7 linked regions of the Homo sapiens genome follow. Changing the gene in region 4 together with the main gene of any one other region gives a genetic interaction. Each region holds a gene or a part of one and is shown on either strand. Other genes may lie near its edges.

Region 1 (3,500 bases), on a different chromosome or scaffold from region 4:
TTGCAAATTCAAATGGCCCAATTCCTGGCAGGGTGAATATGGATGATAAGCAGCTAATTCTGGTCAGTATAACCATATATTTAACTACCATGACCTTCTGCTTGGAAGAAAAAAATGTCTTCCATGGAAGTAAAATGTTAGTGACACACATACCTCCATTCTTGTTGCCTCCCCTCCTTTCACAATCGGCACTGTTTTTCCAGCATGTATTCTATATTGCCCAATTGAATGTCCATTTAGATTACGGATTGGTTTCACTGTTATAAAAAATAGGGAAATAAAAGTCATTCAGGATCTCAAGAAGCAAAAACAGATCTCTTACATTTTGGTACAGAGTTCAAGCATTTATTCAAAAACCAGGTATGGCTTTACTAAATAACCTTACATTAAGGTAGTTTAATATAAACTGGAATCTAGTGGAATATAAAAAGTAGTTGCAGTGTTATTAATACTAGAAGTAGGCCAGGTGCAGTGGCTCATGCCTGTAATCCCAGCACTCTGGGAGGCCGAGGCAAGCGGATCACCTGAGGTCAGGAGTTCGAGACCAGCCTGACCAACATGGCGAAACCCTGTCTCTACTACAAATACAAAAATTCGCTGGGTGTGGTGGTGGGGGCCTGTAATTCCAGCTACTCAGGAGGCTGAGGCAGGAGAATCACTTGAACCCGGGAAGCGGAGGTTGCCGTGAGCCAAGATCACATCACTGCACTTCAGCCTGGGCGAAAGCAACTCCGTCTCAAAAAAAAAAAAAAAAAAAAAAAACGGTGCTAGAAGGGAGGATGGAAGAAAGAAATACAGGATTAAGGGCACAAGGGAGGTCATCTAAGGAGGTATAAGGAGGTACTGTTAACAACAAATAAAATGCCATGTACACAAATTATTAGAAACATAAAAAATACATATTTGTATTGTTACAGACCAAAAGATAATGTGAAAGATACTGTTAATATGACAGTATTATAAAACTTTATATCAACATTTCAAATGTTCAAAAAGAAAACCTATGTGGCTGAGACACAGTAATTAAGAAATAGAAGTAAGAAAGAAGAAAGAAAATCTAAACATCCCACTGTCATGACAGCAAGGACAGAATAGACAAATTGTGGCATATTCACGAGGGAATAACATTCAACAATCAAAACAAAAAGCTAGGAATACATTTAACAACTGGAATAAAACGTCTAGCTTTTTTATTCCAGTTGTTTTAAAACTGACAAAATGAGCAGAAAAAGGCACAATTACATATATACTGTACAATTCCACATATATATAATAGTTCAAAATTAGGCAATAAAACTAGTTTAGGGATGCATAATTAGGTAGTAAAGACATAAAGAAAAGCAAATGAAAATCCTTTCATACTTGCAGTGCTGATAAGCTAAATATATTTTAAAATTCAGACATCATTACTATTTCTCTAAGACCTGGCAAACTGACCCCACAAGCCAAGATGGTGGCTCACTAGAGGCAGGCTGCTGTAATTGGAAAGCAGTGTATTGCTGCTATGGTTTGAATGTATCCCCCAAAGGTCATGTATTGGGAATTTCATCCCCAGTGTGATGGTGTTGGGAGGTGGGACCTAACAGGAGGAGTTTGGGCCATGGAGGCACCACTCTCATCAATGAATTCAAGCCATTATCTCAGGAGTGGGTTCCCTGTAAAGGACAAGTTTGACCATTTCTTGCTCTCTCTCTCAAACTTCTCATTGCCCTTCTGCCTAATGCCATAGGATGATGCAGCAAGAAGACCTTCACCAGATGCCAGTCCCTCAATCTTCCCAGCCTCCAACACTGTGAGAAATCAATTTCTGTTCTTTATAAATTACCTAGTCTCAGGTATTCTGCTGTAGCAGCACAAAACGGACTAAGAAAATGAGACTGAGCGTCTTCTGGAATACTGGCAATATTCAATTTCTTGAGGAGTGAGGTTACGTAGCTTCTGCAATTGAGAAGCTGAGTTTTTATGCTTTGTGCATTTTGTGTTAATATTTCAAATTTTAAAAAAGGGCTAAAAACGGCCAGGTGCAGTGGCTCACGCCTGTAATCCCAACACTCTGGGAGGCCAAGGCAGGTGGATGACTTGAGGTCAGGAGTTCAAGACCAGTCTGGCCAACACAGTGAAACCCCATCTCTACTAAAAATATAAAAATTAGCTGGGCGTGGTGACACACCTGTAGTCCCAGCTATTTGGGAGGCTGAGGCAGGAGAGTCACTTGAACCCGGGAGGCAGAGACTGCAGTGAAATGAAACTGCACCACTGTACTCCAGTCTGGGCGACAGAGTCTCAAAAAAAAAAAAAAAAAAAGGTTGGGGGGGAGGTCTTAAAAAAATTTAACTCTATAACTCTAGAATCCTCAGTATGAGCTACCTTTCTTCTAGAGCAGAGTTAAGTAGTCTGAAGCAATGAACAAGTATGTTACAAACTTAGTGGGACAGCAAGAAAAACAAATCAATTCACTCTTCACAACAACCTTCTTATATAAATGTGTCAAAGTTGTCAGACTCAAACAGAGCTAGGGAAAGCCATGAAGAGAGGGTTCTCATGCTTATACACCTGATAATGAAAATGACTATGAAAACCATAACCTTGCACAAAGCCCACTGCAACCTTACACAAAAAAATACTTCTGCAAGGACATCTGCCCAACAACTGCCTGCCCAACCTCCGACTGGCGTCACTTTTGTTATTAATCTTTGGAGCCAAGGATAATTATTTCAAAACAATTATGTCATCCTCATTTTCGTCTTCAAAAACCTCTGTCTTCCTTACCTCCCTGAATATGCACAAGTTTACTATGGCATTCCCACTGCAATGCTCTATTCCCAAACATCATTTTCTTTTAGAGAGCCTCTGTTTGTTATTTAGGTTGACAAGTAACAAGCTTATTTTAAAATTCAAACTTTGCAGACTGACCCTTACAAGCCAATCAATTTTTTTAAAGAAAGTTTCTTAGCCATACCAACCTAATATGTTAGTTACACAGAAAAATGAGGGTACAGGGGAATTCATTTTTTACTTATGCAGGTTGTAACAGCACAGGCTAATTCTGGGACCAGTAATTTGTTAACAATCACTTTTTAATTCTATTGCTTCCTGATCAAAGGAGATTAAGATACTCCTTTGATGGCCCGTTTGTGCTATGTGTTTTGATTTGTTCTGGAAAGTTCAACCCGGAATCCATTTCTTCATCTCCCTATTATCATGATTTTTCCACATCCTCTCTGCTTAAACTATAAAAATGGATTGTTGCCTTAAACTAAGAACACTGATCAATAAAATAACAGGGATCAAAAGAGGGGTACTGAAATAATGAAACCAAAAATGCTGCACTAGCTTAATGGAAGAGGTAAAAGGGTAGATATTAAAAATCCCGATGTTGCAGGCTGGAATTATTATGCAGTGACTAAAACATTAAGTCAAACTGTCACCTACCATACCTTGAAAGGCAGACCACATACCAAACAAGTTGTAGAATTAGGAGAAAATGAAAGGAAAAAGAG
Region 2 (3,500 bases), on a different chromosome or scaffold from region 4:
ATTTGCTTTAACAGTATTAGCATTTAAATTGTCACAACTAGGCTCTAAAGTTAACGCCCCATTAAGATGCACGAGGAAAGTTCATAGCTCTGTTCGGTACTATTATTTCAGTCTGTGCAGCCTGCCACCTCAGAGCAGTAGCAAAGTGTTGATTACATAATGAAGATGTCTTCCCACCAAAGGACTGGAAACCAAAAGAAAAGAAAACAGAAAAACACAATTGGAAATTAAAACTACATAAAGTTAGACATTCTTCAAAGCCCAGTGGCTCATTGAATTAAGATTTTGTTTGAGTTTTGATGTGAACTTACTACTTTGGTGATTCATGGTAGTCTCTCTGAAGATATTTTTATGGGATTTTTTATAGAGAATTGGTATGACAGTTCAGTGTGCAAATTAGAATCGAGGAGAAACTAGAAAGACTAGTACAGCAAATTATGTCAGGAGTCTGAAAACCTAGTGGTTTTTTTTTCTTCTTTTCTTTTTTAAATGTCTCTGATTTTACCCGCTGTGACGACAACATTGCACTTAGAACTTGATGTGGCAGTTAATGTTGAAAACAGAATTAAATTTTACTTTTTTTTTCTTTTTATAGAGTTGGGATCTCACTACGTTGCCCAGCCTGGTCTCAAACTCCTGGGCTCAAGCAATCTTCCCACCTCGGCCTCACCAAGTGCCAGGATTACAGGCATCAGCCACTGAGCCTGGCCTAAATTTTATTTTCACTTTTCCATCTCTGAATAGGGTTTGAGAGAATATAGGAAGTAAGAATTTGTCTTTGAAGTTGTTTTAACATAATTCGTTTAAAGGTCCAAATTCTAACAGAAAAGTGCTACTTAAAAAGCTAGGTTCGTTTTGCTTTCTCAAATTAAGTCAAACTAAAGAATTTTAAAATAAAAGTATAAATTTGGTTTTGTATTTGTCTCATTTCAAAGCATAGGTCAGACAGATTCATCGACCTTTTTTTTTCTTTCCCCACTTTAAAAAAATGAAAAATTTCAGGCACGTAACAAAAAGTATGGGATATTCATGTAATCTTTGAGATGTGGTCTTCCTATGTTGCCAGGCTGGTCTTGAACTCCTGGCTTCAAGTGATCCTCCTGCCTAGGCCTCCCAAAGTGCTGGGATCACAGACATGAGCTGCCATGCTCAGCCTTTATTTTATTTTGAAATAATTTCAATGTATGGAAAAGTTACAGGAATAGTACAGAAAACTTTAGTATAGCCTTATCAAATTCATTCAATATTTAAACCTATTTTATTGAAGTATAAAATAAACTGCATATATTTTGATATGTTTTGACATAACATATCCACCAGTAAAACCATCAACACAGCCAAGATAATGATCACCCACCACAGTTTCCTTGTGCCCTTTTGTAATCCCTTTCCTCTACCCGTACCCTCCCATTCCCAGGCAAACCACTGTTCTGCATTCTGTCACTATAATTTCTATTTCTAGAATTTTACACAAATGGAATTATATAGTATATACTCCCCCCACTCTTTTAATCAGCATAAATGATTTGAGATTTATTCATGTTAGATTCACTAGATTCTATTAAAAATACAAAAAAATTAGCCGGGTGTGGTGGTGCATGCCTGTAGTCCCAGCTACTTGGAAGGCTGAGGCAGAGAATCACTTGAACCTGGGAGGCAAAGGTTGCAGTGAGTGGAGATAGCACCACTGCACTCCAGCCTGGGTGACAGAGTGAGACTCTATCTCAAAAAATAAAAATAAAAAAAGTCCAACTGATCCTAGCTGATGACAGTAAATTATTTTATTTGAAATACAGTGCCAAGAAGGCTATAGTATAGTGCATCTTCTACAGAGCAGATTAATGACAAAAATGAATTCAAACTTTATAGAAACTAACTGCAGAGAGCATCCTTGTTTATTTATTTTTTGTTAGTATTGTTCTTTAATTTTGAGCAACCTTGTAAAATTGTCTTTAGTTATTTCCTTAATTACAATGGCATGATAGAAAAAGACTCTTGACTCCCTTTCTCTGATCATAGAGTGTCCTTAATAGGTGGCAAAAGTTTGATCTGCTGGCAAATTTAAATTCTTTATACTGTCTGTTTCACTGCAAGAAATATTTTCTCTTTGGAAACTCAGACACTGAAATTTGGGGCTATTTATCTTGGTTGCAATCCGACATATCAATAATGTAAAAATTTTTTGAGACACTTTAAATAGGCTCTAAGAATTTCTCTTCTGACCTCTCAATTTTACCTTTTCTAGATGTATTCTTGGGGAACTATTCACAAAGAAGCCTATTTTTCAAGCCAATCTGGAACTGGCTCAGCTAGAACTGATCAGGTACAGCTGTACATGTGCTCTTGAGTGCCCAGGTGTGATAGGTATTCTCATCCTCCAGTTTCTAACACTTTCTAGTCATTCTGAATGAGTTTATGTTTCTTATGTCCAAGTAAGTTTCTCTTTACTCAGTCAGGTTTACCATATATTTTGTCATAGGCTATACATATAAAGAAGTTTTATTTCACCTAATTTTTAGATCTTACTTTGCATATTTTTTATTAGCTCTTCATATAAAAGCATACCATTTTGGGGATGGCTCTTCCATTCATAGCTCAGATGAGATTAAATTTATTCAGCAAACATTTATTGAGCCTGTTATACAACAGATTACTTTTAACATTAAACTTTAGGATTCAGAGATAAAAAATAGGTCCCCGCCTTCAAAGAATTCAGAGTTTAGTAAGGTATATAGCATGTAAATAGTTATAAAATACAACCTATAATAGAAAATATGGGGAAAGCCCAGGATTGGGCTGGCATTTGGGTGGGTTTGTTTTTGTTTTGTTTTTTTCAATAAAATTAAAGGGAAGAATATAGCAGGCTAATGTTTTTTGTATTTTTTTTTTTAGACAGGGTCTCGCTCTGTCACCTAGACTGGAGTGCAGTGGTGTGATCATAGTTCACTGCAGCCTCAAACTCCTGCACTCAAGTGATCCTCCCACCTTACCCTCCTGAGTAGCTTGGACTACACCTGTAGTCCCAGCTATTTTTCGTTCATTTGTTTTGTAGAGATAGGGTCTCATTATGTTTGTTGCCTGGGCTGGAACTCCTGGGCTCAAACAGTCCTCCCACCTTGACCTCCCAAAGTGCTGGGATTACACACGTGAGCCACCACACCAGCCTAATGCAGACTTTTTTTTTTTTTTTTTTTTGAGATGGAATCTTGCTCTGTCACCCAGGCTGGAGTGCAGTGGCGTGATCTTGGCTCACTGCAAGCTCCACCTCCCAGGTTCAAGCCATTCTCCTGCCTCAGCCTCCCGAGTAGCTGGGACTACAGGTGCCCACCACCACACGCGGCTCATTTTTTTGTATTTTTAGTAGAGACGGGGTTTCACCATGTTAGCCAGGATGGTCTCGATCTCCTGACCTCATGATCCGCCCACCTCGGCCTCCCAAAGTGCTGGGATTACAGGCGTGAGCCACCGTGCCCGGCCAATGTAGACATTTTTTAAAGGTG
Region 3 (4,277 bases), on a different chromosome or scaffold from region 4:
ATGACCCTGTGTAGGCCTAGGCTAATGTGTGTGTTTATGTCTTAGTTTTTTTAAAAAATGGCTAAAAAGTTAAAAAAAAAAAGAAAAAAAGCAAAGGTAGAAAAAAGCTTGTAGAATAAGGATATAAGAAAAATATTTTTGTACAGTGGTACAGTGTGTGTTTTAAGCTAATTGTTATTACAAAACAGTTAAAACGTAAAAAAATTTGGAAGATTTATAAAGTTATAGTGAGTGAAAGTTTATTAAAGGAAGAAAAGTATTTTTTATAAACTGAGTGTAGCCTAAGTGTACAGTGTTTATGAAGTGTTTAGTGGGTACAATAATGTCCTAGACCTTCATGTTGGGCCACCACTCACTCATTTACTCACCCACAGCAACTTCCAGTTCCGCAAGCTCCATTCATGGTAAGCGCCCCATACAGGTGTGCCATTTTTATCTTTTATACCGCATTTGTACTGTACCTTTTCCATGTTTACATATGTTTAGACACACAGATACTTACCATGAATTACAATGGTCTGCGGTATTCAGTACAGCCCCATGCTGTCAGGTTTGCAGCCTGGAAGCAGCAGGCCACACCACAGAGCCGAGGTGTGTCCAGGCTCCACCATCTAGGTCGTCAAAGTACATTCTGTGGTGTTCGTACAGCAACAAAATCGCCTAATGACGCAATCCTCAGACCTTACCCTGTTGTTAAGGTACACATGACTCTTATTTTGTTCCTCCCGGATTTCCTGCATTAATTTTTACTTTTTAAAATATTACATTAATATATTATTTGATTGCCAGTTTTTCTGGTGCTCCCTTAAATTGCACAGCCTGCCAGCCCTTCCCTGGCTCCCCTTTCTTTTTCTGCTTTTCTTAGTGCTTCAACAGACCTGGGACGTTCTTTTTCTTTCTTTTTTTTTTTAATTTTCTTCTTTTTTTCTTTTTCTTGTTTTGTTTTGTTTTGTTTTGAGATAGAGTTCGCTCTGTTGCCCAGGCTGGAATGCAGTGGTGCGTTCACGGCTCAATGCAGCAACGACCTCCAGGGCTCAGGCGATCCCCCGACCTCAGCCTCCGGAGAAGCTTGGACCACAGGCGCGCGCCACCACGCCCAGCTAATTATATATTTTTTGTAGAGACAGGTCTCACTATGTCGCCTAGGCTGGTCACAAATGTTGCTTTTTTTTCCCTCCAGGCAGAGCTAGTCTCTGTTTTGCCTACCTCGCCCCCTCCTGGGCCCAGTTAGAAACCTCATCACATAATTTCATTTCTTTCCAAACTTGAAACCTTCTAAACTTGAAACCTTCTAAACTTGAAACCTTCCAAACTCACCACTTGGCGGCGTTGATCCATCCGCCCGCGCACAAAGAGAAGATCGCGGAACTTCAGAGTTAAGGGGAGCCGTTTCCCGCAGCGCTAGCCGGCAGTATTTCCAAGGCGCAAGTTGCGGAGTTTCTGTTTCCTTTTTCCTCTGGCGAGCTTTGCGTTCCCTGTGCGCCGGAAGTGATCCCCTGCGTGGCTGGGCTGCTCGGGTTAGATCGTCAGGTGAGGGAGGAAGGGATAGCCAGCGCGAAGGAAGTGCTGGAGTCGTGTGTTTTGGCTGCGCGTGATCCTGCGTGGGTCGGGAGGTGTTTCTGTGTAGGTGTCTGGCCCTTTCATCAGTCGTGCGGAGGACCGCGTGATTTCCTTCCAGTTCTCCTCGGTTTTCAGGTGGTGGCGCCATCTTCGGTAAAGGGTGTCCACCTCTCCCTATGGTGTGGCTGGCTAGCCCGGGGGTCTCTACGCTGCTTGGTCTTTGTTAACGGAGATGAAGGCAGTAATTTTTCAGTAACAGGTTTCAGATATAAGTCCCTTGGTGATGCTAATATTTATGGAGGCCTTACTATGCATTAAGAACTTTTTTAGAAGTTTAGAAAATGGCAGTGAATAAAGCAGATACAAATCTCTGCTCTAAGGGAGCTTGCATAGTAATGAAATTTGAGAAGACAGTGGATTGGAAGTGGGATTAACTCAGAATCAAAATTTTGTCGATGGGTTGGAGGAAGAGGAAGTTATTTGGGACCAAAAAGACATACAGGTGTGAGTTTATTTGGGAGGGAGGAAGGAATCCTCATCAGATGTGCAGGAATGTTGGTACGTTGTGGTCACAAAATTGGAGTGCATAAAAATTATGAATATAGTTAGGAATTTAGGACTGGTGAGTTGTACTTTTGCCATAAGAGGTAATGTTTTTTTCTTATTTTGTTTTTTTCCTTCAGGAAAAGCCTAAAGATTAGACTGTAAGAAAAGAAAATAGAAGCCATGTTTCGAAGACCTGTATTACAGGTAGTCACTTGTCTGTATTAATACTGAGATGTATTACTATCAGCCACAGTGATCAGAAGACTTCTTTAGGCTTTTAACTACAGGGGCAAAAGACCTTTGAGCTCACCCACCCACCTCTATACTCATTTGATATGGAGGATTGGGGACGATTTTGCCAGTGTAAATTATGTTCACTAAAACAAAAAAAAAGTTCAGGTTTATTCACACGTAATAGGAATCATTAATTTTTAAAATGTGTGTGTGTTGCTTGAATTTAACCAGTGAGAGGACATTAAAGGTCTTTAGTGACCTAAAGACTGTAGGAATCATTGTTCCAACTTTTTTCTTAAGGCATGTAGTTGCTTTTTTGACCATCTACCTCCTGTGTTGCTAAACGTTCCTCTTCCCCCATCTTTCCACACTGAAGAGAGCATCTCAAGTCTCAGTGGTCACCAGAGATTTCACTATGTAGAAAATGCCTTCTCATTCCACTTAGTATGGGTCCTCACTTTTCCAGACACTAGCCCACCTTGAGCCAGCTTAGACTACCATTTTTCCTCACTTACCACATTCGGGCACCAGCTCCTGTAGATTCTTCTTTGGCTCTCCTACTCCCCATCCTCCTGTGAAGACCAATGAAGAACCAGTTCCTCCATGACTCTGTCATTTTCCCCACCTTAATCCTATATTCTTGGATCCCCACTTTAACCTGTATGTATCTTTAATCTATTTTTTTCTGTATTGAAATGTGAAACATGAAAAAGTTATTGCTTCTTAACACTAACGTTACAGTATTAAAATGTCTTTAAATAAGAGTTAAAAGTTTAATTTAAAAAATTATCCAAGTTAAATAATCCTTTCCTAATCTTCTCCAGTAGATTTTTGTGTGCCCCAAATGAGACATTGTTATTATAAATCTCTGTGTAAGATTTATGAGGTCTAGCTTGTCTGAGCACTCAAATGACATTTCCAGAATCATGACACAGGTTCTCATTAGCAGTTTGATTCTATAGTATGTTGTACTCATATCTTTATTTTCTTATCTGCCCTCTGCTCCTAAGTTTAGTGATAGGATTAGATAGCCAACAGCACCCTGGGGATTGGTGTTTATTTGATTGGTGGACTTCTGCTTTTTATATTAACAGTACTGCCACTTCAAAAATGTTTCTCTGATAGAATGGCTAGCTCTCTGAGCTCTGAATTCAGTGATGTGTACTCCCATCTTTACAGGAGCTCTTGAAATTAAGGAGGCAGCAGAGGGCTTCGGGAAAGCAGTAGCATTGGTGTCAAGGGCCCTGGGTCCTTGAGATCACTTGCCACATACTTCCTGCAGGAGCTTGGGCAGGTGATGCAGTCTCTCTGAGGTGTTTTCTCAGCCCTAAATGGGAATAATTTTACATAACTTGTAGATTTAGTTTTAGAATTGATAATAGATAAATCCCTTAGCTGATATTCAGTAATGATTGCTGCTATTATGTGGTAGTGACTACCTTTGCTGACAGTGATGTGACTTTGACTTGGACAGTCGAGTCTTTGTGTTTAATCAAAGAACCAAATTTATTAGACCTTTTTTGATGCACTAAAAACAGGAAATTTCCTATGAAATATTTATAAAAACTGTATTAGGCTAAGCTCACTACTGAAGCTGTTTAATTTTTGCAATAGCCTTGTGAAGTAGGTATTATGTATCATAATTTTTGCTTATTTTAAAATGAAACACTTTAGATTAGTCATATTAGGTATCCTAATTCCTTTTAAGGTCTGAAGGAGCAACCAGGGGAAGGCAGTTTCATAGACACAGGGAATCTGACTTTGGAATATGTTCCTGTTGCTGTGTCAGAAAGTCATTCATGTGATTAGTTTTAGAATGTATTGTTTTGTTGGAATGTAACCTATCTCTCGTTCTCTAAACCAGCAGACCCCAACCTTTTTGGCACTGATAACTGGTTTCATGGAAGACAATTTTTCCATGGAGGAGGGGGGTGCCG
Region 4 (3,500 bases):
TACCCAGGAAGGTTGTTATTCCAGGTAAGTACCTTGGTTTAAGGTCATTAAATCAAGTCCACACTAAGTAGGCTTAACCCATGGCAAATTCTGGTTTTGCAATACCAGGTATGTACATGGCCTGTTTTGTTCTTTATAAAGGTCAGAACTTCTCCATGTTTACGCCACATGGAAAGCCACACCTTAGATAAAGTATAGAGGCCATAACTTACCAGAGTGACAATATAAAAAATGAAAGCATAAGGGTTCCAAATTTGATCTTGGATAACCAAACAAATCCAGGACCCCCACCACAGAACTAAATCAAAGTGCACCCAAAAGCAAAGATTGTTCTTAACAGAATAGTTCCTTCTTTATAAAACACTGGATCACTAAAGCAAAAACACAGGTCCTCTTCCCAGCTTGCCAGTTATTCCAATGAATTGCTACAGACAACTACACTCTCTGTCAAGGATGGAACTAGCCATGCAGATGTTTTCTCCAAATTCCAGGGAGTGACCCTAACCCATAGGCTTTTACTCAAAGCTTCTAATTTTGTTTTTCAAATGTAGAAACAGCTGGTGCCTAGCCCTCCAGGGAAAACACTAGGTTCCAGAAGGGAGTGGGGAAGAATGGTTATTTTTTTTCTGTTTCACATGAACATGTCTCTTCACTCAAGTCTTTTGTCCCACAGCTTAAAATGCTCTTTATACGCCTTGGAAATAACAATTATTGGGGCTGGAAAATCAATGGTGCCCAGGTTGTTTTTCACATACATTACACACATTTCTGCAAGTGCTCATTTACAATAAAGTATTAACTTTGAACCATAGGAAAGGAATTCTCATGGAGGTCTAGGGTATTAATGACCTCTGGAATCTTTACTGTTATCCCAAACGAACTCTTGGCCACTCTTTATACTATAGTGTATAGTTATAATTTCTTGAATTTATTACAAATAATACAAATTTTAAAAGATAACTCCTACCATTATCTCACAAATAGCTCCATTATATCTGACATATTTTGTTAAGGATAAACTGGAGTACGTAAGGTGTGCAGTGATCCTCCAAACAGTCAAAAATAAGGCAACCATGCTACCTGAATATCTCTGACTACATTTCCTTCCCAATAGGTGAGTGCTCTGCTAAGCTCTGCAACAAGTTCCAAGCTAGTAGTGGCCAGCTACTCAGCTTTCTCAGGAAACTCACCTTCTCTCCTTGGAGTGATGGGACTGAGTCCCGCAAACTGTGAAAGCTGTCTTTGATGTGGTCCCTACGTTTTCGTTCCAGTGCATTATGATGAGCCCGTTTGTCAGCCTAGAAGAATGGGAGAAAGAACACATTAGGAATGTCACTCCTTTTGCTTGGTACAAGGTGGGTGGGGTACAGCCTGGAAGTACACGCTGTCAGCACTGTCCCTGGCGAGTGGACTGGGAAGGATTTCTCGAGGTGGGCAGTTAGGAGTCTCCAGAATTAGGCTCTGCTAAAGGGGGAGAAAGGGGTGAGCAACGCTTGCGACAGGAACATCCAAAGTAGCTCGATGCATCCAGCTCATGCATAAGTAAAATAAAAGTTATTCAGGGGGACAAAGTGTGACTCTCCTGTAACATCAGTGGTCCCCCCCAACTTGCTTATGTGACAGAAGAGCCACCAGTCTGTGGTTAGGAAGTGACTAGAGAAAGCTCCAGTGGCCCCTTCTTAAGATGTGATCACCTCCACTGTAAGAGATTCCCCAGATGGGTGTCCAGGGGAAGAAAGAGTTAAGTCACTGGTGCTTCTTTAATGTGAAACCATCACCATGAGTCCCAAGCCCACTAAAAGGCACTAGTTTAAGACCTTCTCACCAAATCATACAACAGAAGCTAAAACCTCTATAAAACCTAGATGCATGAATCTGAGATCATTATGACAGAGCTGATAAGATGACAACTGAATTCTGAGTTCCTATTTTTTAAAAGTAGATCCAAGGTGCTATCCTGCCAAGGGCTTCCTTGCACACAGGCAGTGCCTGACAGGCAGTTCTTAGAGGGCACAACTTCTGACACCACATACTCAGAATAAATTCTCTCAGGTACCTGTGGCAGGTCAGGCTAACTGGCAGTATCTAAATATCCAAGTCAAAGCCTTAGCCTGCTTGGAATCACAAAGAACGGTCAGCTGGAGATGGACCAAAACTGCCAACACCAAATCAGGAATGGCAAAATGCTCTGGCTTCAGGCAGAAGAGATAGCGCTGGAGAGCATGATAAGAGCACTTCAGCAGGTCCCCATCAGAGGGGTCTCCCCTCCAAATGGAACACAAACAACCCAAAGCAAGAAGAACTTCATCACACCTACACTCTAGGAATTACGGAAATTATGCTCTGAACATTCACCTTGAATGCACAACGTTGCACTGAGCTAATCTAGAGAGCCAGTCTGTACATGGGAAGTTCAGGTAGCTTAAATCTATACAAACAGAGGGCCAGAAATTCAAAAAATGGAACAAGAGTAAATAACTTGGCTTAGCACAAGAATAATGCTGCCTCACATTAATCCTTGTACTAGAGAAGATGTACAGACAAAAATCTATCAAGAGTTGTGAAAACGAAAGGACTTGAAATTCTCCTGTTATTTAATCCTAAAAGTCCCAGTCATTACAGAGGAAGAGGAGACTGGGAGCACCTGTAGTCATCTGAGTTACTTCCTGGTCTCTTAAACATAATACCTCACCTACAGCTCTGTTGAACTGGACATGTGGTTCCCATGACAACCATGGTTCTCCATAGCATATCTCTCTTTTTGGGGCAGATGCCTGGAGCACTTCTAAAGTTGTCCTAATCTTGTTAAGTCTGGATTCACTGTAAAATGAATGTTTACTGAACTATAGTGACATGAAATATGAAGCTGAGAGGACAGTCAAGTTTGGAACACCACATAACCTGAGGGTAGAGGTAGGTACTCTGTATCATACAACTTTAGCGCAAAATTATAGATGCCTTCTAACAGTAGCATGAAATAGTGCGACAGAATTGAACCTATTTAAGTATCTAGTCCTTTTGAACTTACTGTTGTTCCCTCTGATCATCTACATAAAGATAAGTTGGGCTGCGACTATACCTAAGGAGCTTAAAGGCCAAGAGACAATATTTGGCATGTGTCTGCGGCTCCTGTTTGCTATATACTACCTAAGGTGGTTTATTTACATGCAAATTAATTGCCCATCTTTGGTCTCCAGAGCAGCCCAAGATACTCCTGTCTACTAAATCACCCTGATTCTTGGCCCTCCTCCCAGCTAAGAGCTGTGCACCAGAATTACCCACAATCCCTCTTGTTGATACAAATAAAATTCTAATTGTCTGTTTTCTTTCTGGGAGAGCCCTGCAAATCTCAAACAGCTAGAATGAAGTTGCACTTGGTTTCACGTGGACCTGCACTAAAGGGGTGGAGCTAAGTATAATCTAACACCAAAATCATCCCCACAATGCACTACCCCCTCCCATTCACTGAGCTCTGAAAGGACTCAAATGGACAAGTCTCT
Region 5 (3,500 bases), on a different chromosome or scaffold from region 4:
ATGAGAAACTTGAAACTTTTGATTCAGGTTTTGAAGAATTTCAACAAGGACATGCTTGAATCAGTATCAGGAAGTTGTAAAATGTTCTAATATTATATTTCCTCTGTATTTATTAAATACTCTTCCAAAACGAACAACTTTTCCCCTCCTATTTACTCTCGTTTTTTATATTTTATTTTATTTAGTATTACTAAATACTTAATGGACTTAGTGGGCTTTTATTATTCACTGTTACCACTGATGAGAGTCTTATTCTTTATGGTGCTAAGTTTGTTGCAAATTTGTTAGCAGAGGCTCCGTCAAGACACTTTGTCCTTTTGACATATCTCATTAGTCTTATTTTCTGATAAAACAAAATGTCACAGGTTCACCTGTTATTTTCACTCTAATAAACGTAGAATTATCTATTTCTCCTAGGATCCCTGGTTCCTTTTAGTGGGGGATAGTATTTAAAAACCAAGATCTTAGTGCTAGGTGTATCCATTGCTGTATTCCCAGTCCCTTATAAATTTGTGAAATATAACTAATAATTACATAAACCAGGCAGACACATACTGAAAACTACCAAGTGTGAACAAATTATTTTATTCATATTCAAAGCAAAGGAAACATTCCACAGTGCTTTGAGAGAAAATTATATATTTACAAATTTAGTCATATTCTAATAGCGACTAAGATACAATTTCCAAAACCCTTCAGATGATGTTATTTTGATGTAGTGTATTGTGATTATGAGAGAAAACATTGAATATATAGAACAGAGAAAAATACTTAACAATTGTGAATATATTTTTCTTAAATTGTTTTCCTGAATCTAAGTATATGCTTGGGCATTTCTTATGTATTTTTTAAACTTTATACAGGTAGAGAAAGTAGAATAATAAACCCTTGTGTACTTATCACCCAGCTTCAACAATTAACAGTTAATGGCCATCTTGTTGTACTTCTACTCCTACCTCTTCCCTCAACCTTTGAAGAAAATCCCAGACAGCTGATAGCTTTTTTTGGAAACTTGTAGCCTTTTCTCACCTATTGCCTTGGCTTTCTTGACAGGAGGGAGCTCTGACAGCCTTTCGCAAGACATATGACAAAACTGTGGCCCTGGGTCACCGATTGGATATTGTATTCTATCTCCTTAGGATTGGCTTATTTTATATGGATAATGATCTCATCACACGAAACACAGAAAAGGCCAAAAGGTACTTTCTAAGGGTGGGATTATATTTTCTCTAAATTATGATGCTACAAATGAGAAGCTGATATAAGAAACTGCCTGTTTTGTTTACAGCTAGTAAGTTTGGTCAAATAATTGATGTACTTATTTAGTAAAATAATTTAAATATCTCCTTTCGGTTCAAGTTGTTAAAAGTTGTTTTCTCATTTCAAATAACAGACAAGTTTTTAAAACGTGGCCTTGTCTGTTTCCAGACTATGATCTTACTGTTTTTATTTCATAGCTTAATAGAAGAAGGAGGAGACTGGGACAGGAGAAACCGCCTAAAAGTGTATCAGGGTCTTTATTGTGTGGCTATTCGTGATTTCAAACAGGCAGCTGAACTCTTCCTTGACACTGTTTCAACATTTACATCCTATGAACTCATGGATTATAAAACATTTGTGACTTATACTGTCTATGTCAGTATGATTGCCTTAGAAAGACCAGATCTCAGGGAAAAGGTAATGACCAAACTTTAATACTCAAATTTAAAGACTTGTTTTTTTTGTTTAAATACACAAATCATTAAAATGTACATTTTTTTTGTATATATGTTTTTTAAAATACCTAGGTCATTAAAGGAGCAGAGATTCTTGAAGTGTTGCACAGTCTTCCAGCAGTTCGGCAGTATCTGTTTTCACTCTATGAATGCCGTTACTCTGTTTTCTTCCAATCATTAGGTAAGGATAGGGTTGATATTTTTGATTATCTGTCTTCATCTTACTCCTGATCCTATGTGCAAATAACCTAAGACGATTTTTCACCTATCTGAGAAATGTAGTGTGTAGGTAGCTGCATGTCTTTGATCAGTATTCCTAATGTGCCCAGTTTTGTTTAGAAGAAGGGTCATCAGATTGTGGCCTGCTGTATGGCCCAGGAGGTAAGAATGATTTTTACATTTTTAAAGTGTTGTTTAAAAAAGGAGGATGTGACGGAGAGCTATGTAGCTTGCAAAGCCTAAAAATACTTACCCTCTGGCCCTTTGCTGAGGGTATTTGCCAGACCCCTGGTTAAGAGTCTTAATGGGGTATAAGGCAAAAGTGAGCAAATGGTTATTAAGTATTGAGCTTCATGGGGACAGAAGTGAGGGAATTCTGAATGTGATTTGGGGTGGAGATTAATTGAACCTTGAATTCAGCAATGGGCTATTCTGTATCAATAGCTAAATAGCTAAATCTCTGTGCTGATTTGCAAATCATTTTCAAGGGCTATGGGTTAAGAAAATAATCTCTTGAACGTAATTGTATTCCTTCAAAGCTAGTTTGTAGTGATCCTGCCTTCACACATTTGCTTGTTTCTCCCTCTTGTCCCCATTCTTTCCTGGCTATTTGGTTTCCTAATAATGACCACAAACTATTAAGATGATAGAAGAATCAGCTTGCATCAAGTTGACCCAGGGGTCTTTCCCAAAACTTAAAATTTGACATTGATATATTTTGTTTATGCTGCAAATTTCAGAAGGTGTTTGGTTAAATAGATAGCTTTGGAGAAAAGTGGGAATGGACGGTTCCAAATGACGATTGTTAATGTTTTTGCAGTGGGTTTTGGCCCAGTGTTTTTGGATGCTTTCTCCATGCATATAAATTGGGCTGCTTTATGAGAATTCATAGTATTTACCTCAGGTAATGTAGGAACAGGTTTCCCGAGCATGATGAGTAACTCACTTGGCCTTATCTTCTCATACATACACACACAGTTATGTTGCTTTTGCATATAAGGTTATATTGTAGAATTGCTCTTTTCCCTTTTTTATGCTTGAGGTCTCCTGGTCATCACTCAACTCAAATATGGAGCCCTTCCCTGCTTCCCTCAGTCAGAACAAATCTTACTTCTCTGCATTCCTGGGATTCTTATTGTATGCTCCCTCCTTCAAAAAAATTGAGGGAGCCCTTCCTTGCTTCCCTCAGTCAGAACAAATCTCTTACTTCTCTGCATTCCTGGGGTTATTGTATGCCCCCTCCTTTAAAAAAACTGAGGTATAAATCACACACCATAAAATTACCTCAAGTGTACAATTCAGTGCTTTTTCATATATTGGCAAGGTTTTGCAAATATTAATAATTCCAGAACATCTTGATCACCCCAAAAGGAAACCGACACCCATTAGCAGTCACTCCCTATTACTCCTTTCCCCCAGCCCCTGGCAACCACTGATCTACTTTATGTCTGTACGAATTTGCCTATTCTGGACATATCATCTAAATGCAGTCATAAAATACGTGGCTTTTTGTGCCTGGCTTCTTTCACTTTATAATGTTCCCACATTCATCCATGTTGTAGCATG
Region 6 (3,500 bases), on a different chromosome or scaffold from region 4:
GTACAGGAGAGGCTCTGGTTCACAGGGCTCTGTGCAGCATTTCTGTGGGCACTTCTAGTGGAGGGGCTGGAGGGTCTGCCAGCCTGGAGGACTCCGCCCACCCAACAGCACCTGCAGCAAGAGGACCCTCTGTGGGCTTTGTGTTGGGTTATTCAGGCAGACAATCTGAAAATGGTCTGCAGAGATCCCTGAGTAAAGGCCTAAGTTTGGGCTCAATTTGAGAAGAATGGAGAACAAAGAAAAATTAGCCAAATAACATTCACAAGATAAAATAAGCATAAAGGCAAAGAGACTAATTAAATGCTGATTATAATACTCAAAAGCGAGGCTCAACGACCTGGCCAATGAGTAGTATCAACAGGCTTGGAAGTAAAGAAGCAGATTAAAGACGAAATGTTCCATTAACAAAAGCATCATGATCTAGCATCAGGCAGGCTGCTAGAAAACTCCACGGGAAAGGAAGGGCCAGGGAAATACTGACAAGAAAGAGGAAGGGTGAAAAATTAACCTTAAAAGATAATTAAATGTACCATGAAGATTTAAGAACTAAAATAGTTTGGTGCTGGAGAAGGAGAGAATGTCCATAAGTAGATCAGAAAACATGTGGGAATTCAGTGCATGGTAAAGGTGGCACTGCAAGCAGGGAAAATAACAAATATTCAAAAACAGCAGTGGGAAGATGTGGCTAACCGAGGCCCCCTTATTCTTCCCACCAAAATAAATTCCAGGAGCCTCAAAGAATTACAAGTAAAAAATGGAACCATGAAAGTTCTAGAAAAAAGAGATCAATACCTATAATTTTAGAGTGGGAAAGCCTTTCTAAGTAGGACCAAAACTCAGAAGCCATAAGGGAAAGGCCTAACAAATCTGACTACATGAAATTATATGCATCTGAATGAAAAACAAATAGAAAAACCATGACTATGAACAAAGTCAAAAGAAAAGCAACAACCTGGAGGAAGTATTTACAGTACATTTGACACACATTATTTCCTTTCTGTACATAAAAAAATCTAACAGAGAAATGGACAGTTTATAGGGAAAAATAAAAGTGACATATAAAATCGCCTATGAAGGGATGCTTTACCTAACTTAATGAAAGATCAATATATCATTTCTGACCTATGAGATTTGCCAAAGTTAAAAGTTTAATGGTGATGGCAGGTGATGGGGAAAGACACAAAAACTGTTGGTGGAAGCATAGATCAGGGCATTCTTTGCTCATAGTGACCCAAACAGATTCACATATCCCATTGCTAGAAATTTACCCCCACAGAGACTACCAAGAGTTCACCAAGATAGCATGGGCAAAGATGCTTGCTGCAGTGCTGATTCCAACAGCAAAATGCAGAAACAATGACGGTGTCCTTGAGCAAGAAACTGTTTACATAAACGACAGCACGTTCATAAAGTGGAATATTACACAGCTTTGCAAGGGAGCTGGGAGGAGTGAAGGGAGAGGCCCTGTTTCCATTTCATATCCATGGGTACTTGTAGAATCCGTCTACAACTTTAATTTTTGTTTAATGCTTTCTGGGTGGCAGATTTATAGGCCATTTTAGGTTAACTGAAGCAGTCTAGTCTACAAGGACTGAATTTTGGAAAAGAGTTAGCTAAAAAGACGTAGTGCTCTAAATTTAGCATAACTATCACTATAAAAAATGTTTGTACCCTATGCCCCAGCAATTCTACTGCTGGGATTTATCTGATCATAAACTTACTCCTACACAAAGATGCTAACCCCAGCACTGTGCTGGTAATAGCAAGAATAAGAAAAACAGCTAGAAGACCATCAACAGAAAACCAGTTCCATCAGTTATGCTGCATCCACAAGATGCAATTTTCTGCAGCTGCCTTAATGAGGTAGATCTTTATGTGCAGTATGGAAAGGTGGCCAAAAGAGACTAATCAGTGAAAAAAGTCAAGTACGACGTGATCTCAATTTGTATAAATTTTTGAAATGACATTCATATGTAATTCCCAGAAGGAACTTAGGAAAGTATTAACAGCAGTTACTACAGGTGAGGGGACTTGGGGGAAGGAACACATTTTCCATTTTACGTTTCTCTGTACTTCTAAACTTGCAGTTGTTACTTTTATTAAATAATTTTTCAAAAACTCTGAATTCTTTATGAGAACAAGAAAGGCTAAATTCACTACTTCAGATTTTACCTCCTTACTCACCCCTGTGCAAGAAGTAAACAAAGAATAAAAGGATCATTGGGGAAGTTATAGGAAAGGAAGGGACCCAGGGCCAGAGAGCGCCACCTGGGTGGACCGGACATGGTCCCAGCCCTCATCTCCACCCGCCAGTACTGTGTCTTGACTGGCTTCCAGCCTGACAGTTTCACTAGCTCCCCATCCCTCAGAAGACACCTGCACTCTGTTTCCTGGCTCTTCCCTCCTCCCCAGCCACCTCTTCCTGCCTTGGATGTATGCTCAACACCACCAAGCTAGAAGCTGACTCCCATGAGTAGATGCTATTTCTTGGCTTCGTGTCCTTACATGTTTTTCCTATACCAACATTCCTCCTGCCTCCCTTTCCTAATTGAAGACTCATTGTTGGCATCACTCTTACCAAGCCTTCTGACTCCCCCAGGCTTCACGAGGTCTCCTCTCCCTTCCTCCTCTGCCCTTATTCCTCCCTCATTTGCCTATAAACTCAAAGACACGCCTATACTGAAGGTTTGCAGGTTGGATCCTAGCCTCTTCTCATGTTTACAGCTGCAGAACCACTCCATTCCTTTGTGGCTACTGTTTCCTCCACGTGGCTTTTTCTGCTCTTCTGTCTTGTCTTTCTCTTTTTTCCTCTCTCTCTCTGTCTCCTCTCTTTCTTTCTTTCTTCTTTGAGACAGAGTCTATGTCACCCAGGCTGAAGTGTAGCAGTGCGATCATGGCTCACCGTAGCCTCAGCTCCCTGGGTTCAAGCTATCCTCCCATCTCAGCCTGCCCAGGTGCTGGGCTTGCAGACAGACATGAGGCACCGCGCCTGACCCGTGTCTTTCTTACCAGGGGGTTTCTTCCTATGCTTAGTGACCTTGGCCATCCACTCATATATTTAAGAATAAAACACTAAAAGGCTTAGTGGAAGCTCTGCAAATGAGTGATGCTTGTTCATTTTCTCAGAATTAATTGACTAGGCTTTTTTTTTTTCCAATGTCTTTTCTCTTAATTGGTCACGCACCATAGAGAGGGCACTTCCACTCTCTTTGGCTGCCAATCTAGAAGCCAGGTGGGGGAAGGCTCGGGTGGTGTCTCTCTTCAGACTGTGAACTTTCTCTTAATCCCTCTTTTCAGTATGGCTCCCCCTACCTACCCCTGCAGTGTGCCTGGTGTCCCACAGTCAAGGTACTCTCTGGCTTATTCCTTCCTAAGAATAAATCTCGGGAGAGTAACCTTTTAACCATCTGCCAAGTTGGAAGAAGGGTAGTCACCCGGCCGCTTGGAGGGGATGGGAGGTGGGACAGGACTGTGGGGACCTGCTTCTTAAACAGACTTCC
Region 7 (2,163 bases), on a different chromosome or scaffold from region 4:
TGGCCTATATGGATTTTAAAAGCAGCAAGTTTTCTCATTAAATTATACATTTTTGCCAGGTTTTCAACAATCCCTTCTTTTTTAAAAAAAAACTCTATGCTTCATTCACCCCAAGCCTATAACCTCAGGTCATCATCCCCTAGCTGTCACCAACACTGGTCCTCTGTGCCCCTCAATGAATCATAATTTGCTGAACTGTACCATGAAGCTTATAATCAGTCCTTAATGGGATTTTGGTGCCTATAACCCAAAAGCACTCTACATGCGTCACTTCTTTTCTTTTTCTCCTTCCTTCTCTGAGGCTTTTCTGTGATATTTAAATCTCTGGCTAAGTTCTATCTGATTCCCTGAAAACTTTTCCAATGATGAGATGTAGGAGAACTGTTTCCCTCCTGGTAAAGGTCAGATTGCGGGGAGAGGGAGGATGTAAATGCCTGAGACCCGAGGGAAGAGGAGGAAATTGGTTCCTTCCCAACAGCCATTTTCTTGGTTTCTCTAGATTTCAAGGAGAGTCAAAGATAAAATGAGTATTTAATTCAGTTTCAGAAAAAAAGGGTACATTACTTCGATGAGAAAGCATAAAATTAAGAGGCTTTTCTGGAAATCCAAGAAAAAGAAATAACCATTAATATGTTCAATGATAATTTTCTAGATCTTCCTCGTGTCCAAAGCTATATATTTTCTCCTCAAAAGCAGCTGCTCCAAGAACTAACTAGCCCTCTTTATCTCCCTCTAGCTGGGACAGACTAATTCCCCTCCACCCCCACCTCTCTTCTTTCAATAACACTGTGTAGGTGTTAATGGCCTGGGCTCTCACCAATGAAGAGAATTGTCCTTTAAGCCAGCAACCCACAGGCAGTGGCACCCAAAGCCTCACCAACCCACCCCCCAACCCGGCCCATCCCCAGGGCAGAAGCCACAGAGCTGGCATTGTTTCCACTGTCTCAGGAAGAAGGAGCCAAAAGCTGACCCTCAGCACAAATCAAAGCCCAATATGGAGAGAGAATAACTGCTTCTAGGCCGAGAGTAGGCAAGCTGTGGGCAAAAAAGGGGAGTTTTTGCAGCCACCTCATCTTTAGAAACAAGGGGAAAACTAGACCCTTTTCCACTATTATGGTCTACCAGGTACTCTACTGCTCCAAGGAGATCTGAAAATACAAAAGGATCTAAACAAATAAGGAGAACTTTTCCCAGGCTGGAGATAAGAATGACAAACAGAAAGATGGGTGAATGTAATAATGTGTAGGAAGATGATGCTGGGAGCCTCCTTTCTTCACATGGCTGCCAGCCCCATAGAGGACAACACAGTAAGAACCAGGACAACCACTCCAGACTGGTATAGCTGGGGAATCTTCAGGCCTTTTCCTAGGTCCCACATCTGTGGACAAAGCAAAAAAAAAAAAAAGGAATTTCAGTAAATAGGACATTAACAGTTCCTGTCTCAGAAAGTAATTCTACCTAAAGGAATAGATATCTCCTCTCAGCATGATTCTAGAGAAAAGCGCTTCTACCCTTATGCCCCACCTTTACCCTTCTCAAAACCCACAGTATGGAACCTATTATCCACTTATTCCAATGACAGAAAATCAGGTTCTATTGTGTGGTGATGGTAGGAGGAATGTTCTCTAGAATGCCACAGGCCCCATACGGTATACAAAAGCTTCCAGAATGAATAGATACAACTTTTCCTCAGGACCACACATCTAGATTAATGTTTCTCAAGGTGTATTCTTCCAAACACTTGCTCTCAGAATGTTGAAAGCCATTGTATGGGCCAAAAAAAAAAAAGTTCTGTGGTCATACAAAGTTCATAAACATTTAACTGCAAGACTTTCTAAACAGTTTTTTTTTTTTTTTTTTTTTTGAGACGGACTCTCACTCTGTCGCCCAGGCTGGAGTGCAGTGGCATGATCTCAGCTCACTGCAAGCTCCACCTCCCAGGTTCATGCCATTCTCTTGCCTCAGCCTCCCAAGTAGCTGGGACTAGAGGCACACGCCACCACGCCTGGCTAATTTTGTTTTTGTATTTTTAGTAGAGATGGGGTTTCATCGAGTTAGCCAGGATGGTCTTGATCTCCTGATCTCGTGATCTGCCCGCCTTGTCCTCCCAGAATGCTGGGATTACAGGCGTGAGCCACTGCGCCCAGCCTCTTACAGTTTACT

What was found.
Region 1: changes in MAX (region 4) and METAP2 together harm fitness less than expected from each alone (positive genetic interaction), as found in Homo sapiens cells (one large-scale study listed by BioGRID).
Region 2: changes in MAX (region 4) and CDK12 together harm fitness less than expected from each alone (positive genetic interaction), as found in Homo sapiens cells (one large-scale study listed by BioGRID).
Region 3: changes in MAX (region 4) and SSBP1 together harm fitness more than expected from each alone (negative genetic interaction), as found in Homo sapiens cells (one large-scale study listed by BioGRID).
Region 5: changes in MAX (region 4) and PSMD6 together harm fitness less than expected from each alone (positive genetic interaction), as found in Homo sapiens cells (one large-scale study listed by BioGRID).
Region 6: changes in MAX (region 4) and MED9 together harm fitness less than expected from each alone (positive genetic interaction), as found in Homo sapiens cells (one large-scale study listed by BioGRID).
Region 7: changes in MAX (region 4) and SDHC together harm fitness less than expected from each alone (positive genetic interaction), as found in Homo sapiens cells (one large-scale study listed by BioGRID).

Annotation. Positions count from the first base shown.
Region 1 is NC_000012.12:95,508,652-95,512,151, reverse strand, and holds part of METAP2 (methionine aminopeptidase 2), read right to left. Parts: intron 258-3,500; coding exon 154-257; intron 1-153. UniProt on the Homo sapiens protein: Cotranslationally removes the N-terminal methionine from nascent proteins. The N-terminal methionine is often cleaved when the second residue in the primary sequence is small and uncharged (Met-Ala-, Cys, Gly, Pro, Ser, Thr, or Val).
Region 2 is NC_000017.11:39,513,486-39,516,985, forward strand, and holds part of CDK12 (cyclin-dependent kinase 12), read left to right. Parts: intron 1-2,245; coding exon 2,246-2,323; intron 2,324-3,500. UniProt on the Homo sapiens protein: Cyclin-dependent kinase that phosphorylates the C-terminal domain (CTD) of the large subunit of RNA polymerase II (POLR2A), thereby acting as a key regulator of transcription elongation.
Region 3 is NC_000007.14:141,736,881-141,741,157, forward strand, and holds the start of SSBP1 (single-stranded DNA-binding protein, mitochondrial precursor), read left to right. Parts: upstream 1-1,477; 5' UTR 1,478-1,530; exon of another isoform or gene 1,531-1,713; intron 1,714-1,726; exon of another isoform or gene 1,727-2,118; intron 2,119-2,243; 5' UTR 2,244-2,286; coding exon 2,287-2,310; intron 2,311-4,277.
Region 4 is NC_000014.9:65,092,518-65,096,017, forward strand, and holds part of MAX (protein max), read right to left. Parts: intron 1,795-3,500; exon of another isoform or gene 1,299-1,794; coding exon 1,191-1,298; exon of another isoform or gene 1,115-1,190; intron 1-1,114. UniProt on the Homo sapiens protein: Transcription regulator. Forms a sequence-specific DNA-binding protein complex with MYC or MAD which recognizes the core sequence 5'-CAC[GA]TG-3'. The MYC:MAX complex is a transcriptional activator, whereas the MAD:MAX complex is a repressor.
Region 5 is NC_000003.12:64,016,995-64,020,494, reverse strand, and holds part of PSMD6 (26S proteasome non-ATPase regulatory subunit 6), read left to right. Parts: intron 1-1,053; coding exon 1,054-1,199; intron 1,200-1,457; coding exon 1,458-1,677; intron 1,678-1,787; coding exon 1,788-1,896; intron 1,897-3,500. UniProt on the Homo sapiens protein: Component of the 26S proteasome, a multiprotein complex involved in the ATP-dependent degradation of ubiquitinated proteins.
Region 6 is NC_000017.11:17,480,000-17,483,499, reverse strand, and holds part of MED9 (mediator of RNA polymerase II transcription subunit 9), read right to left. Parts: intron 1-3,500.
Region 7 is NC_000001.11:161,361,544-161,363,706, reverse strand, and holds the end of SDHC (succinate dehydrogenase cytochrome b560 subunit, mitochondrial isoform 1 precursor), read right to left. Parts: intron 1,379-2,163; coding exon 1,274-1,378; coding exon of another isoform or gene 1,167-1,273; 3' UTR 501-1,166; downstream 1-500. UniProt on the Homo sapiens protein: Membrane-anchoring subunit of succinate dehydrogenase (SDH) that is involved in complex II of the mitochondrial electron transport chain and is responsible for transferring electrons from succinate to ubiquinone (coenzyme Q).